Homo sapiens: one gene and its partners. The protein of the gene in region 1 purifies or fractionates together with the protein of each later gene. This does not show direct contact. Each region holds a gene or a part of one and is shown on either strand. Other genes may lie near its edges.

What was found.
Region 2: the proteins of MAMDC4 (region 1) and TTC28 purify together in Homo sapiens (affinity purification with mass spectrometry; one large-scale study listed by BioGRID and IntAct). This does not show direct contact.
Region 3: the proteins of MAMDC4 (region 1) and ANGEL2 purify together in Homo sapiens (affinity purification with mass spectrometry; one large-scale study listed by BioGRID and IntAct). This does not show direct contact.
Region 4: the proteins of MAMDC4 (region 1) and POMT2 purify together in Homo sapiens (affinity purification with mass spectrometry; one large-scale study listed by BioGRID and IntAct). This does not show direct contact.

Annotation. Positions count from the first base shown.
Region 1 is NC_000009.12:136,855,346-136,858,322, reverse strand, and holds part of MAMDC4 (apical endosomal glycoprotein precursor), read right to left. Parts: intron 2,893-2,977; coding exon 2,704-2,892; intron 2,592-2,703; coding exon 2,475-2,591; intron 2,306-2,474; coding exon 2,174-2,305; intron 1,614-2,173; coding exon 1,497-1,613; intron 1,417-1,496; coding exon 1,282-1,416; intron 1,159-1,281; coding exon 1,025-1,158; intron 957-1,024; coding exon 737-956; intron 665-736; coding exon 527-664; intron 345-526; coding exon 226-344; intron 138-225; coding exon 47-137; intron 1-46. UniProt on the Homo sapiens protein: Probably involved in the sorting and selective transport of receptors and ligands across polarized epithelia.
Region 2 is NC_000022.11:28,001,341-28,004,840, forward strand, and holds part of TTC28 (tetratricopeptide repeat protein 28), read right to left. Parts: intron 1,340-3,500; exon of another isoform or gene 214-1,339; coding exon 34-213; exon of another isoform or gene 1-33. UniProt on the Homo sapiens protein: During mitosis, may be involved in the condensation of spindle midzone microtubules, leading to the formation of midbody.
Region 3 is NC_000001.11:213,002,368-213,005,867, forward strand, and holds part of ANGEL2 (protein angel homolog 2), read right to left. Parts: intron 3,088-3,500; coding exon 2,666-3,087; intron 1-2,665.
Region 4 is NC_000014.9:77,282,884-77,286,383, forward strand, and holds part of POMT2 (protein O-mannosyl-transferase 2), read right to left. Parts: intron 2,750-3,500; coding exon 2,598-2,749; intron 2,159-2,597; coding exon 2,067-2,158; intron 991-2,066; coding exon 914-990; intron 1-913. UniProt on the Homo sapiens protein: Transfers mannosyl residues to the hydroxyl group of serine or threonine residues. Coexpression of both POMT1 and POMT2 is necessary for enzyme activity, expression of either POMT1 or POMT2 alone is insufficient.

The sequences.
Region 1 (2,977 bases):
AGGCAGGCACCCCAGAGCAGGGCCGAGGCCACGGCAGGGCTCCCACCTGGCTGAGGGCAGGGCCCGTCCTGGAGGAGCAGATCATCCAGAGCCACGTAGGAGTGTGCCACGCCTGCGGCCACTGCCTCAAACACCACCTGGCGGGTGCAGGGCAGGGCAGCCTCAGCGGGTCCAGGCAGCCCTCGGGGGAGGGGGAGGGGGAGGGGCACCCCACCCTGCACTCACCCTCCAGGCTCGCTCGGCCTGCACGTCCATGCTGCCCAGGCGCCAGGCAAGCCCGCCGTGGGCACTGAGGCTGAGCACCTGGTGCCTCCCGCGCTCCTCCAGGTAGACCCGCAGGGTGCCTGCCAGCAGGGGCGGCCCAGGTCAGCAGTGTGGGGAGAGCACCTGCAGGCCCTGGTCTGAGCTCCCAGGCTCCCAGCCTGGCGGGCGCAAGAGGCTCCCCAGTGGCCTCAGCACAAGGCTGGTGGGGACACCAGGCCAAGCTTCCCTGAGCCCACTGGGGCCCCCTCCCAAAGCCCCTCACCTGGGCTGCGGAGGCTCCCGTGGTACCAGAAGGTCAGACAAGCAGGCTGGGCCAGGGGCCTGTGCTCCTTGGAGGTCAGGGAGGCCGTCTGGCCCCGGGGTAGTGCGTCTGGGCTTGTGTCCACCACCATGTAGTGCCCTGGAGGTGCCAGCATCAGCCTGCCAGCCCCTGGCCAGCCCCTCAATCCCTGCCCCTGCCAGGCCCCCATACCTTGGGCTGTCTCAGTGGTATGGTCTGTTGGGGGGCCCCAGGCAGCATGGCCCGAGGCATTGGCCTGCCGCCTCCAGAGACCTTGGCCTCCAGGGGAGAAGCCGCAGTCTGAGTCCTCAAAGGAGCAGTAATTAGGGGCCCAGCAGGGGCCCGGCCGCACGGCCACATCGTCCAGCGCCATGGTGCCGTGGTATCCGTCCCGGAGGCCCTCGAACAGCAGCTGGGGGTGGAGGGTGTCAGCTGGCCAGGGGCCCTGCCCTGTCCTCCCACCCGGGTGCCAGGCCTCACCTGGTACTGGGCATGGGAGCCAGGCTGGTGGGAAAGGGTGGCCCAGGCCTCGTGCCAGCGGTTGCCCTGGGTGCCTGACCGCGACCACAGGTGTGTCTCCTCCCCTTCCCGTCTCATGGCTAGGCGCAGAGTCCCTGCAGGGAGGGGACCAGTCCATAACTGACCTCTCTCCTGTGCCTTGATGGGTGTCAGAGCGGGGGACTCTGAACCCCCGGGGGCCTCCCCACAGGCTCTGCCCTGTTTCCAGGTCCACTCACCAATCTGGGGCCCATGGAGGTGGTACCAGAAGCTGAGACACTCCGTGGGTGCTGCTGGCACCTGGGGCCTGGAGAGCAGGTGGGCACTGTGGCCCCAGGCCAGGGGGTCTGTGGGGTCCAGGAGCACAAAGTGGCCTGCAGGGGGCATGGGGCTGTGCTGCAGAGATGCCCCACTCTCGTCTGAAAGCCACCCCCGGTCTGAGCGCCCATCCTACCTTGGCCTGTGGTGTGGTCGTGGTCAGGGCCGCGGCTCTCCACCCAGCGCCAGTGTGTGTCTGAGAGGTGGCCTGGGTACCAGCTGCATGTGTCCCGCTCAAAGTTACAGGAGACCTCTGGGGGTGGGGCCAGGTGGCGTCACACACCTTCTCCCCTCCCCCTCCAGAGCCCTGAGAAGGTGGAAGCTCCGGGGTCCCTGGAGGAGTGTAAGGGGAGCACCCAGGTGGGAGTGAGGATGGGCAGCAGGAACCTCTGTCTCTCTCGGTGGTCACTGTGGGGCTACAGTCCCTCAGGGTCACGTTGTCCACCCCAGCTCCCTGCTGGTCAGGGCCATCCAAGTCCACCAAACCGACAAACTCCAGCTTCATGGGGTAGGGGGATGAGGAGGATGGTTAAGTCAGGGCCCGCTCCAGCGGAGCTCCCACTCTGGGCTGCCCTCCTCACCCGGAAGGGCCGGCGGCGGGCCCCTAGAAGGACCTTGTCCACCTTCCAGATGCCTGCACTGCTGCTCAGGGCCTGCCATGCCAGCTCCCGGGAGCCGTTGTCCACCACAACTAGTGCCAGGAAGCCTGGCCAGCGGGGCGGGGGGCACTGTGGGTCACCCGGCCCCAGACCCCTCCCACTGTGCAGGGAGCACCCAGGGGCTGGCCAGGGAACTTGCGGAGTGTGGCGGTACCTCGGGGCTGGCTCTGTAAATAATAAGCCAGGTGGAGTTCACAGCTGGGGCCAGAAGGGCCAAGGAGGGGTGTGAGGACCCGGGCCTCAGCGCCTAGCTGCCCCCAGGCCCGCTGCAGAGACAGGAAGTGCCCTAGGGGAAGAGCATGGTGCTCAGAGCCTCATCCCTTCCAGGGCCCCACTCTGTCCCTCAGGGATCCCCAGTCCAGAGACCCTCTGTAGTGCAGAGGCAGAGCAGAGACCCCTCTGAGGACGCTGCTCACACCCGGGCGGGGGCTTGAGCCTTGGGCCTTGGGCCTCACCAGCAGCAGCTGCACTGGACCCCTGGCTCTCCTGGGCTGAGACACGCCGCCACTGCAGCCGCCCCACGCTGGCGTCCTCCCAGCCCCCAGCCTCGGGGGACTCAAAGTCTGTGGTGCCTGGAACAGCAGCCGGCACTGAATGGCAGAGTCCTCAGAGTCCTCAGCCTGCCCCGGCGCCTACCCCCTTGGCTCCGCAGCAGGAGGTCTGCAGGAGGTTGAGCCCCTTTACCACAGGCCTGCTCGTCCTCGCCCCCTGCGCACTGCTCCTCGAAGTCACACAGTTGTTCCGGGGGCACACACAGGTCCCCGCAGGCAAGATGCCCCTGCTTGCAGGAATCCTGGAGCCGCGAGCTGGGCGGCAGGGGCTGGGGGGCTGGGGCCCGGGGCCCAGGAGGCAGCGGCTGCAGGGTGGACACCTCTGTGGGGGCAGAACTGGTGTCAGGAGGCAGGGATGGGGAGTGCTGTGCCTCTCCAGGGCAAGGCAGGGTAGGGCAGAGTCAGCA
Region 2 (3,500 bases), on another chromosome or scaffold:
CCCCCGGCCCCCCACCATGTGTGTGAGCCTTACCTTGGACTGCACGCTGAGGGAGCGGATGGAAGGGACAGCAAGGAGGCCGAAGCGCTCGTAGAGGTACTCATTGGAGGAGCTTCCCTTCAGGAGGGCGAAAGGAATGAGGTAGAGCTCCCCCTCCAGAACCAGGATGAGCTGCCGGTGCCGGCCCACGGGGCCGCTGGAGTGCATCAGGCCCTATGGAGCAAGCACGGAGAGGCTGACATGGGTGGCCCAGCAGGCAGGGGTTTCAGGCACCAGGACAACCCTGAGCCCTAGCCTGGATGACACAAGCACGAGCAGGTGAGGCCTGTGGGGGTGTGGGGCGCCATGGGGCATGGGCCGAGTTGCAGCCCTGCAGGAGCGGCACCAACTGGCATGCTCGCTTGTGGACTGGCAAGGGCTGGCCTGGCAGCATCCATCTGCCTCACAGTCCTGAGAAGGTTAGAGGACAGTTTCTTGAAGTTCACAAGAACCTGAAGTGGGTTGGAGACCGGTCTGTACCGCACAGGCACCCTGAGAAGGGGTGGGAATGGCCCCTCTCAAAACAAGATCTGTTTTCCATTTCAATGGACAAGAGGCTAGAAAATCACAGTGAGGACGGGAGGTCTGGGGGCTGGCATGACAGCCCCTGTAGAAGGGGATGGGCTGGGTTCTAGGATCTTCCGTGACCTCCTCTGAGAAAGAGTGGCCCCTTGGCTCTGGGCTTGGGAGGTGCCGTCCCCACTTGTTCCCTCTGGGGATGTCAGGGGACCCAATGCATGGATGACTCCCATCCCTCTTGAAAGGCCGAGCATGAGGACTCGAGGCAGGGTGTGCACAGGGCCACAGCGGACACAGCCTCATTCCTGTTCATTGCAGAACAAGGCTAAGGGCGCGGGCATCTTAATGAGAGCAGCAGGCAACAATCCTGGAAGCTGGGTCCACACAGACTGCGGTGAACAAAGAGGTGGCGTGGAAGCTGCTGCTGCAGCCCAGAGCCTGCCAAGAAGGTCCCAGGTCCACAGGGCCTGCGCAACACTGGGTGCCAGGGGTGGGGCTGGCCTGCCCCCCAACCCCATCTGCTGAGGAGTGGCTGACAAGCGGACACCCACCAGGGTGCCACTCGCTTGTGCCTGGGGAAGCAAATGTGCTCGCTTGACCCGTCTGATGTGCTGCCGTGGGCACTTGACTGAGAGTGGCAGAGCACTAGGCTAACCCAAAGTGACACATGCCTGGCGGGATGTTCAGTCTCTGTAAACCCATATGGTTTTTTTTTTTCTTTCCTTTAAAAAAAATTTCTAGCTCCATCTAGCGAAAGCAGAAATAAAAAGTATTAGGCCAATTTGTTTTTCATTTGTTTGCTGTAAGAGCTACAGCATGGGCCAGGCACCAGTGGCTCACACCTGTAATCCCAGCACTTTGGGAGCCCAAGGCGGGAGGATTATCTGAGGTCAGGAGTGCAACATGGTGAAACTGCATCTCTACTAAAAATCCAAAATAACCGGGTGTGGTGGCATGCACCTGTAGTCCCAACTACTCAGGAGGCTGAGGCAGGAGAATCGCTTGAACCCAGGAGGTGAAGATTGTAGTGGGCCAAGATTATACCAGTGTACTCCAGCCTGGGGGACAGAGCGAGACTGTGTCTCAAAAACAACAACAAAAAAAGAGCTACAGTATTTCCCAAGAGGAGGTAAATTAATCACTGTTCAATTGTGCAACCTAGGCAGGAAGAAGTAGGGGTGTGTCACAGTGACCCCGACACTGTCTATGGATGAGCTCTGGGTTAGCACAGGGAGGAGAAAGAGTTGTAGGGCACCTGGGCCCCATGGCCTGCCATGGGCCACACCTGAGCTCCCTGGCCGGCTCCATAGGTAAAGGTGGCTCAGGGGGCTGCTCTGGAGGGCAGTGCCACCACACCGTGGAGGTGTGCCAGTGAACCTCGAACCAGCCGCAGTGGCACAGCTGATGCTGCCCTGACCCTGCTGACAGGGTCAGCAGCTGTGACAGTGATGACCACCTGCTGCTCAGTGGGAACTGTGCTGCCTGAGAATGGGTAGTGTGGGGCTTGAGCCACCTGCCATGTGCAAAACTGGACCCACTTCCACTGTTCCAGAGTCGCAGGGCTTTGCTGTGACAAGATGCCAGCCCCAGCCCCAGCCCCAGGCCTGCAGGTCCTCCCTGGGCTCCTGCTGCCTAAGCCCAAACCACAGTAAGTTTCTGTCAGATATCATCCCACAGGCTACTGCCTTCACCAGGACACACGCCACTCATAGACAAGTCCCTGGTCATGACAGCACCTAACTGTGTGAACCGGAGGGAAGCTTGGCAAGCTGAAAAATGGAGAAGTGAGGCTGGAATCCACGCAGAGCAAACATTCACTGGCAGCCCATCTTCGTAGAACTCTGCTAACTCTGCCCACGAAACCTCATCTGCGGCACAAGCCTAATGATCAGAGAATGCATGTCCTTGAAGGCAGCTTGTCTGTCTGCTCCAACACTCCACCAGGGGTGGGGGGCATCTCCTGTGGCCCTATTGTCAGAAGTCTCCCAAGCTGGGCCTCGACTTTCCCATCAGCCACTGAGTGGTGTCCGTCATGTGCCTACTGGGGACCGTAGGGAAGTCAGATAAATTTAGGATATGGTCCTTGCTTGCAGACTTATGATGATGTACTTAGAAAACTAAAATGCACACAAGAGGCCATTGCTGAGTGAAACTCAGTATTGTCAAATGTAACACCTTCATGGCAGCATGGCAGCCCCAGAACGGGGAAAGCCTACCCAGGCTGACGCTGGGCCCACCCAGGAGGGTCCGTGAGGGTTGGGGAAGGCCTGGGCAGATGCTGTTGCCAGGTGAGCACAAGGCTAAAGAGGGACATGGGAGCCAGACTGTGGGGGCGCTGAAGATCAGGCAAGAAAGTGTGGTTCTTGTTGGCTGTCAGGACCCGCCATGCCTTCTCAAGCTGAGCCCTGCAAAGCATTGAGAGGCAGCCTGCCTGCCTGCGGGAGAGGGGGCTGTACCCAAGAGTAATTCAGACCAGGGCATGCCCACCAAGAGAAGAGACAAGGAGACTTGCTGGGACTCAGTGAGAGTGACCTTAGCAGGTGAGGAGAAGTCTGAAGTCCAGGCTGGGAGATAGGGAGGCTGTTCTCTGAACCTCATATCCCAATTTGGAGGTCTGGGTCCTCCCTGCATCATGCCTAGGAGCTGGTACCAAGCTTGGCTCATGCATACAACCCTGGGTGAAGGTCCCCAAATGGGACCCCTGTCCAAACTCTGTGAAATGAGGCAGGTGACAGTCGCAGCTGTTCTCTGAAATGTGTGGGCTTGTGGGGAGACGGGTAGAACAGCAGGCTGACAGCTGCCGTTCAAAGGGGGAAACTGATTGGACATGTTAGAGATAATGCCCAGGAAACTTGTCAGCTCTGACTCTGGTGTATGTGTGCTGTCCTTGCACTGAAAGATTAGTTATAATCCAACGTGAACTTGAAAAGGGGAAAGCAAGC
Region 3 (3,500 bases), on another chromosome or scaffold:
TAAACAGATGCACTGTCATCCCCAAGCTTTGTTTTTCCACTGACATAGCACAGGTAGAGTGGATTTAGCATAATTTTTAAGTGCCCTAGGATTTTCAGAATGGTCAATGAATGCTGACTTTAACTTAAAGTAACAAGCTATATTAGCTCCTAACAAAAGAGTCAGCCTGTCCTTTGAAACCAGGCACTGACTTCTTCTTTCTAGTTATGAAGTCCTAGATGGCATCTTCTTGCAATATAAAGTGGTTTCATCCACATTAAAAATTGTTGGCCAGGTGCGGTGGCTCATGCCTGTAATCCCAACACTTTGAGGGGCTGAGGCAGGAGGATTGCTCAAGCCCAGGAGTTCGAGACCAGCCTGGGCAACATGGTGAAACGCCACCTCTACCAAAAAATATTAAAAAATTAGCCCGGCGTGGAGGCATGCACCTGTAATCCCACCTACTTGGGAAGCTGAAGCAGAATCGCTGGAACCCAGGAGGCAGAGGTAGCAGTGAACCGAGATCGTGTCACTGCAGTCCAGCCTGGGCAACAGCGCGAGATCCTGTCTCAAAAAAAAAAAAAAAAAAATCTATTATTTAGTGTAGCCACCTTCATCAATGATCTTAGCTAGATCTTCTGGATAACCTACTGCAGCTTCTACATCAGCAGCACTTGCTGCTTTACCTGTACTTTTATGTTATGGAGATGGCTTCATTCTTTAAACCTCATAAATTAACCTCTGTTAACTTCCAACTTCTCTTCTGCAGCTTCCTCATCTCTCAGCCTTCAAAAAATTGAAGAGACTTAATGCATTCCTCTGGATTAGGCTTTGACTCAAGGGAATCCTGTGGCTGGTTTGATCTTCTATCCAGACCACTCAAGCTTTCTCCATATTAGCAATAAGGCTGTTTTGCTTTCTTATTATGCCTTCATACACTGGAGTAGCACTTCTAACTTCCTTCAAGAACTTTTCCTTGCATTCACAACTTTGCTGTTTGGTGCAAGAGGCCTAGCTTTTGGCCTCTCTCAGCTTTCAAAATGCCTTCCTTGCTAAGCTTAATCATTTCTAGCTTTTGATTCAAAGTGAGACATGTGAGTCTTCCTTCTACTTGAACACTTAGAGAGCGCTGCAGGGCTATTACTTGGCCTAGTTTCAATATGGTTGTGCTTCAGGGAATATAGAGGCCCAAGTAGGGGGAGAGAGATGATTAGTGGAGCAGTCAGAACACATTTATCGATTAAGTTCTCATTTTATATGGGTACAGTTCATAACACCCCAAAACCATTACAATAGTAATATCGAAGATCACTAATCTTGGATCAACATAACAGATGTTAATAATAATGAAAATGCTTGAGTAATGCAAGAGTTACCAAAAGGTGACAGAGACAGGAATTGAGCACATGCTGTTGGAAAAATGGCAATGATAGAGCTGCTTAAGGTAGAGTTGCTATGAAACTTCAATTTTGTAAAATGCAGTATGTTTGAAGCTCGATAAAGCAAAGCACAATAAAATGAAGTATACCTGTACTAAGAGAGATTAACTCTTACAAAATTTTAAACTTATTGGCTGGGCATGGTGGCTCACGCCTGTAATCCCAGCACTTTGGGAGGCCGAGGTGAACCTGCAGGTCACCTAAGGTTGGGAGTTAGAGACCATCCTGGCTAACACTGTGAAACCCCATCTCTACTAAAAATACAAAAAATTAGCCGGGCTTGGTGGTGCAAGCCTGTAGTCCCAGCTACTCGGGAGGCTGAGGCAGAATTGCTTGAACCTGGGAGACAGAGGATGCAGTGAGCCGAGATCCCACCATTGCACTCCAGCCTGGCGAAAGAGCAAGACTCCATCTCAAAAAAAAAAATAAATAATTTTAAACTATTACTCAAAACTCCAGTGTTGGAGAGCTTATTTTGGTAAATATACTGAAGATGAAATGATCTAAAGTAAGGAGAGGAAAGCACAATAAAAATAATCACGAGATAAATTGTGCTAAGCTAAAGAAAATATTTATTATTCTACAACGGAAACTTGTATAATAAATGTTAAATTACTATTTTGCCCACAACCAGCATTCAAAATTCTATCCTGCCACCTTGTGTTACTTATCGGTGAAGTATCCATGTCTGTCAATACTTTTTTTTTTTTTGCTGCCTGTTAATTCCTCCAAGCAGTATGTTGCCACAGATAGATGAAAAAGATATAAATCAACCAAGTGAAAATAATTACTTACTAGAAGAAGCTGGGCACAGTGGCTCACGCCTGTAATCCCAGCACTTTGGGAGGCCGAAGCAGGTGGATCACGACGTAAGGAGTTCGAGACCAGCCTGGTCAACAAGCTGAAACCCCGTCTCTACTAAAAATACAAAAATTAGCCAGGTGTGGTGGCACACACCTGTAACCCCAGCCACTCGGGAGGCTGAGGCAGGAGAATCACTTGAACCCGGGAGGTGGAGCTTGCAGTGAGCTGAGATCATGACACTGCACTCCAGCCTGGGCGACAGAGTGAGACTGTCTCAAAAAAAAAAAAAAAAAAAAAAAAAAAGTCATGGAAAATCATAGTTTGATAAAGTGAGGGTACTGGATCATCCAAGGTTTTCAAATAGCCATGTAATGACTATCTTCACATTATCATGAGCAGAGCAACTATGTCCACTCCCTAATAACAATGAAGAAAGCACTTACCTTTCCTATGGGAAGTCCTTCATAATTCAATTTTCCTTCCTTTATGAAACTATATAGTGGAGAACCAGGAACAGAATTAAAGTCACCACACATAACAATAGGGCAGAAGCTGCCATCTTTCTGGTGGGCAACACTGGAAATCTCTGCCAGTAGCATTGCCAATTGCGTCAGCTTAATATCACCTCGCCTTGGATTATACAACAGATGCGTATTTGCTACGCAGATTGCAGGGCAGGCAGCATATGGAATTTTGGGCTGTAAGAGTAAAACTAATCCAACATTGTCTCTGTCCAACAGAGAAATATCAGGGCGGAAGAATTCCACTGGGTTCACTGACAAGAGTGAAAATTTGGAATGTTTGAAGCAAATAGCACAGCCATCAGGTTTCCTTCCTGTCCGCATCTTATATTCACAGTGATAACCTACAAGAAACAAATGAATTTAAAACAAATGACTGCTTTTATATATTTATCAAAACACAGCTCACCTGATACTTCTGAACAATGTTTACCAAACTGTATTCTGCAAAACATTAGTAATGTAGGATGTCAATAAACATTGGAATAAAAAACGTTTGACACTGGGTCTAACAGGCCTCTTTATGCGCAGACTTCAGCCCTTGATATGCTAATGTGTATTATCAGTCTCCCGTTGCCATCCTAGTAAAACTTAGTCATGGCAATAGTAAAGCTTTATAATAATCTATTCTCTCACTCTCTCCACCCTATATTCCTGATCTTTTTGCCTGTAACTCCTTCCCCCTCACTTCATTCCAATCTCACTGGCCTCCTCACTTGCCTTAACACACTCCAACCTCAGGGCCTTTCCCTTGCTA
Region 4 (3,500 bases), on another chromosome or scaffold:
TAATCACATATCTGGCTTGAGATAGTGATTCTTAAACATTATTCCTGCAGAACACAGGTTTTCCATAAGCCAGAATAAGGGGGTCTTCCACTAAACAGCAGGACTACAGCAGGGGAAAATTTAAGCTAGTGAGTAGAATTTTCTCAATTTAAAGATTTCTTCTCTGAATTTTTCTTAAACCTTTGATGCTACAACTGCTGTCAGCTACTAATGATAGAGAGTGCAAACAATGTCTTAGAAAACCTTAAAAAGAATCAATCATGCCCTGCCTAAGCAGTTTCTGTCCAGGAATATGAGTGGGCTCGTGGCTGGGATTTCATGCTGCATATAAACAACACACTCAAATTAGCTATCCATCCTAACTGATCCTGATTTCATATGATGGAATGAACTATCAGTATCTCATGATCTTCAACCAAGAGCACTATGATTTTCAGGGGCTCTGCCACTTGGGCAGATTCACAAATCACTTAGAGGTGAAGGAGTGTAGTGGTAACTAGCAGTAACTCTAAAAGCCTACCAGCCTGGCTCTGAGGGCTGGATCTACCTCTTACACTTAGCTGTGTGACCCTGGGCAAGTTCCCTGACCTCTTTGTATGTCAGTTCCCTCTCCTGTAACTGGGAATGATGGCAACCTCCATATGATTGTAATAAGTATCAGATGAGTATAGTGCTTAGCGTAGTGCCTGGCACATGAGCTGTACAAGCAGTCACTGGTATCACCATCATCACCACCATCCTCATTCTGTGGTGAGGGAAATGCCTTTGAGGATCACAGAAAACCGTAGTAAAGATGCTTTCAAATTCCTCCACAAGGGGGAATGGATCTGTAGCATGGCATTGACTTGTGATCCAAATTCATGGCTGCCCAAAAGCTCTTAGAGACGCCATGAAATGAGAAGGGGACACATACCCGGATCATGACCATGTGGGATTCCAGCAAGATCTCAGGAAAACTGGGCTGTAGCACATCCAGGCTGATGTTTGGCACTAGGGGAAAAAAATGCAGGAGAAAAGCCTTTGTCATACATTCTTTCCTCAGTCTGTCCATGGTGTCCACATTCCCACCAGAATCCAAATGCAGCCTTGCTGACAAGTTCACAACTGTTGAGGAGACAGAAGAAAGCTTGGCCCAATTCTTGATCATTTACTTAGCTGTATGAAGAACTCATCAGGCATTCTAAGAAATGCAAAGGAAATAGACAACAAGGTTTCACCTGCTTGGTGCTCCAACAGCTCCCAGCACCATTGCTTTTCACTGTGGTACTGGCTCAAATGCTGCTCTCCTATTAGGCATAAGGGACAGCTGCACAGCCCCCGAGTCACTGTGGCCCTTTGAAGGGCCTGGGAATGAGGAATAAATCATTCTGGACGCCTGGAGCAGCTGCTGTCGGGATGGGGACCAAGTCTGTCTCCTCGCCAATATGTCCACAGGGCCCCATGTGGTTCCTGGCATACTTGATAAAGAGTTGTTGAATTAGTTGATTAGTGGGTTTGGCTAGATTAGGTGGGAAGAAGAACAAAATGAAGGCACACATAAGCTTGAGGTGGGTAGTTTAGGAAAACAGATGATGAATCCAAATACTTATTGAGTTGAAGCTGACAACGCAGTGGAAATATCAAATTGGAGCTTGGGTGTAGAGATGTGGGGCACAGATCAGGGCTGTGGCAGTCACTTTCTATAAAAGCATTGGCTGGATATGTGGGGGGGCGGGGGAGCGACTCTACACTGAGGCATAAAGGGAAAGTAGCAGCTTGCTCCAAGCCTGGAGGCTGGGGAGGTGCCCATGGTGCAGGGGAGAGAGGAGCCCAGAGGAAGACGAGACAGATGGATCTGCAGATGGCCACTGGCCACTTTAGGGAGAGGAGTTTACGGAGGGAGTGGATGAGAAGGAAAAGGAGTATGCTATGTAGGTACAGACAACTCATAGAAAGAGAGTGTTAACAAGGAACAAACAGCAGCAAGTTGAAGGGATAGCACAGTTTACAAACGCTTACTTTTCTAAGATAAGGGTTTCTTATAAATGCTTCCCTCCAGAGCCAGCCCAGAAAGTGACCTCACTCACACTTGGGATTGATATGGTCCTCCACATTCCAGATGGAGTTGAGGGTTTCTTTCAGGTATGGGGTGCAAGTAACTTCCAACTGCTCCCAGCCCCTGTGAAAAGCAGAAGTCACAGATGTCTCTCAGAAGACGTGAAATCCACCAGAGAGTGACACTGTCTTCTGCTCTTAAATCCACAGGCTCCTTCTCTTTTCCACATGGTGGCCATTATTTCTTCATGTTCCATGTTGGACAACTATCCTAGGATAGTCTAGCATACAGTATTCCCATTTTAGAAAAAGACATAGACCCAGAGAGTTATTAGCACCAGCCAGATGTGAAAATGTTGAACTATCAGAACACATAAAACACCGAAGCTCCCCCGGAGTTCTGTGCTCCATAATACACCTGATATCTACTCTCCCTCCATCTGCCACTAAGAACAAGCAGACAGCAGGTGAACACAGGAAAACAAAAGCTTCTGGCATACTCCTTGTAGAGTGAAAGGAAAATCAGGACCCTCGATTGGGACAGCAAAACCCTAGAGACTTACCACTTGGGCAGAACCTTTCCCGAGGAGCCCAGGACACAACCTGTGACCAAATGGATGAAGCGAATTCGACTTCTCAGCACTTTGATCCGGTTTCCAAATTTCCTGTTTACGACCTCAATCCGCCAGAAATCATTTGAGTCCCCTGTTCCATTCTGCCATAAAAGCCAAGAAAAAAATACAAAGAAAGTGAGGGGACTTTAGAGAAAACGTGTCAGAAAGGGAAATGGCCACCCAGATGCCACCATGTTATGAAGGTCAAAGACCAAATTAGGCTCAATGATAGAGATGGGCAAGGTTACAAGAAGGCCAAAGAAATATCCCAGGTGATTGGCATTGTCCCAAAACTCACTATTACAACCAAAAAACAGTAGTATGACTCCTGGAACCAGAAGTCCAGGAGTCCAACTCTTCACTTCATAGAACTAGAGTTCAAGTTCTAAATACCTGTCTTTGCCCTTCAACCAAACTCAAGACATCACTCTGAGCCAACAGAAACAGATCTGGGCCATTTGCATCCATTACCTTGGCTATCTAGGTATTCACTCATCTAAGCCAGAAAGGTCTGGCCTGGCTATTGCACTTTGGAAATTAAGACATGTATGTCTAATTCTTCTCAGAAGATGCCCACAAAGAAGATTAGAATGTTCACAGTCTTGACCTAGCACAATGTGGAATGAGCAAACAGAAAGAGGGCTGGGAAATCCACCTGAAGGCCAGAATCTGTATACAGTTTTCCACTAGTAGTTTTTGTCTTCAGTTACTCCCAAAGCCATAAGTACTCATAGAGCTTTTATTTATTAGCTGCATCTCCTTGAGGTAGTAAAATACAAAAGCTATGGATAATATCCCTCTGCAGAACAGGGAAATGATACTTAAAAATAAAGCTAATGAGAATTTGGGATC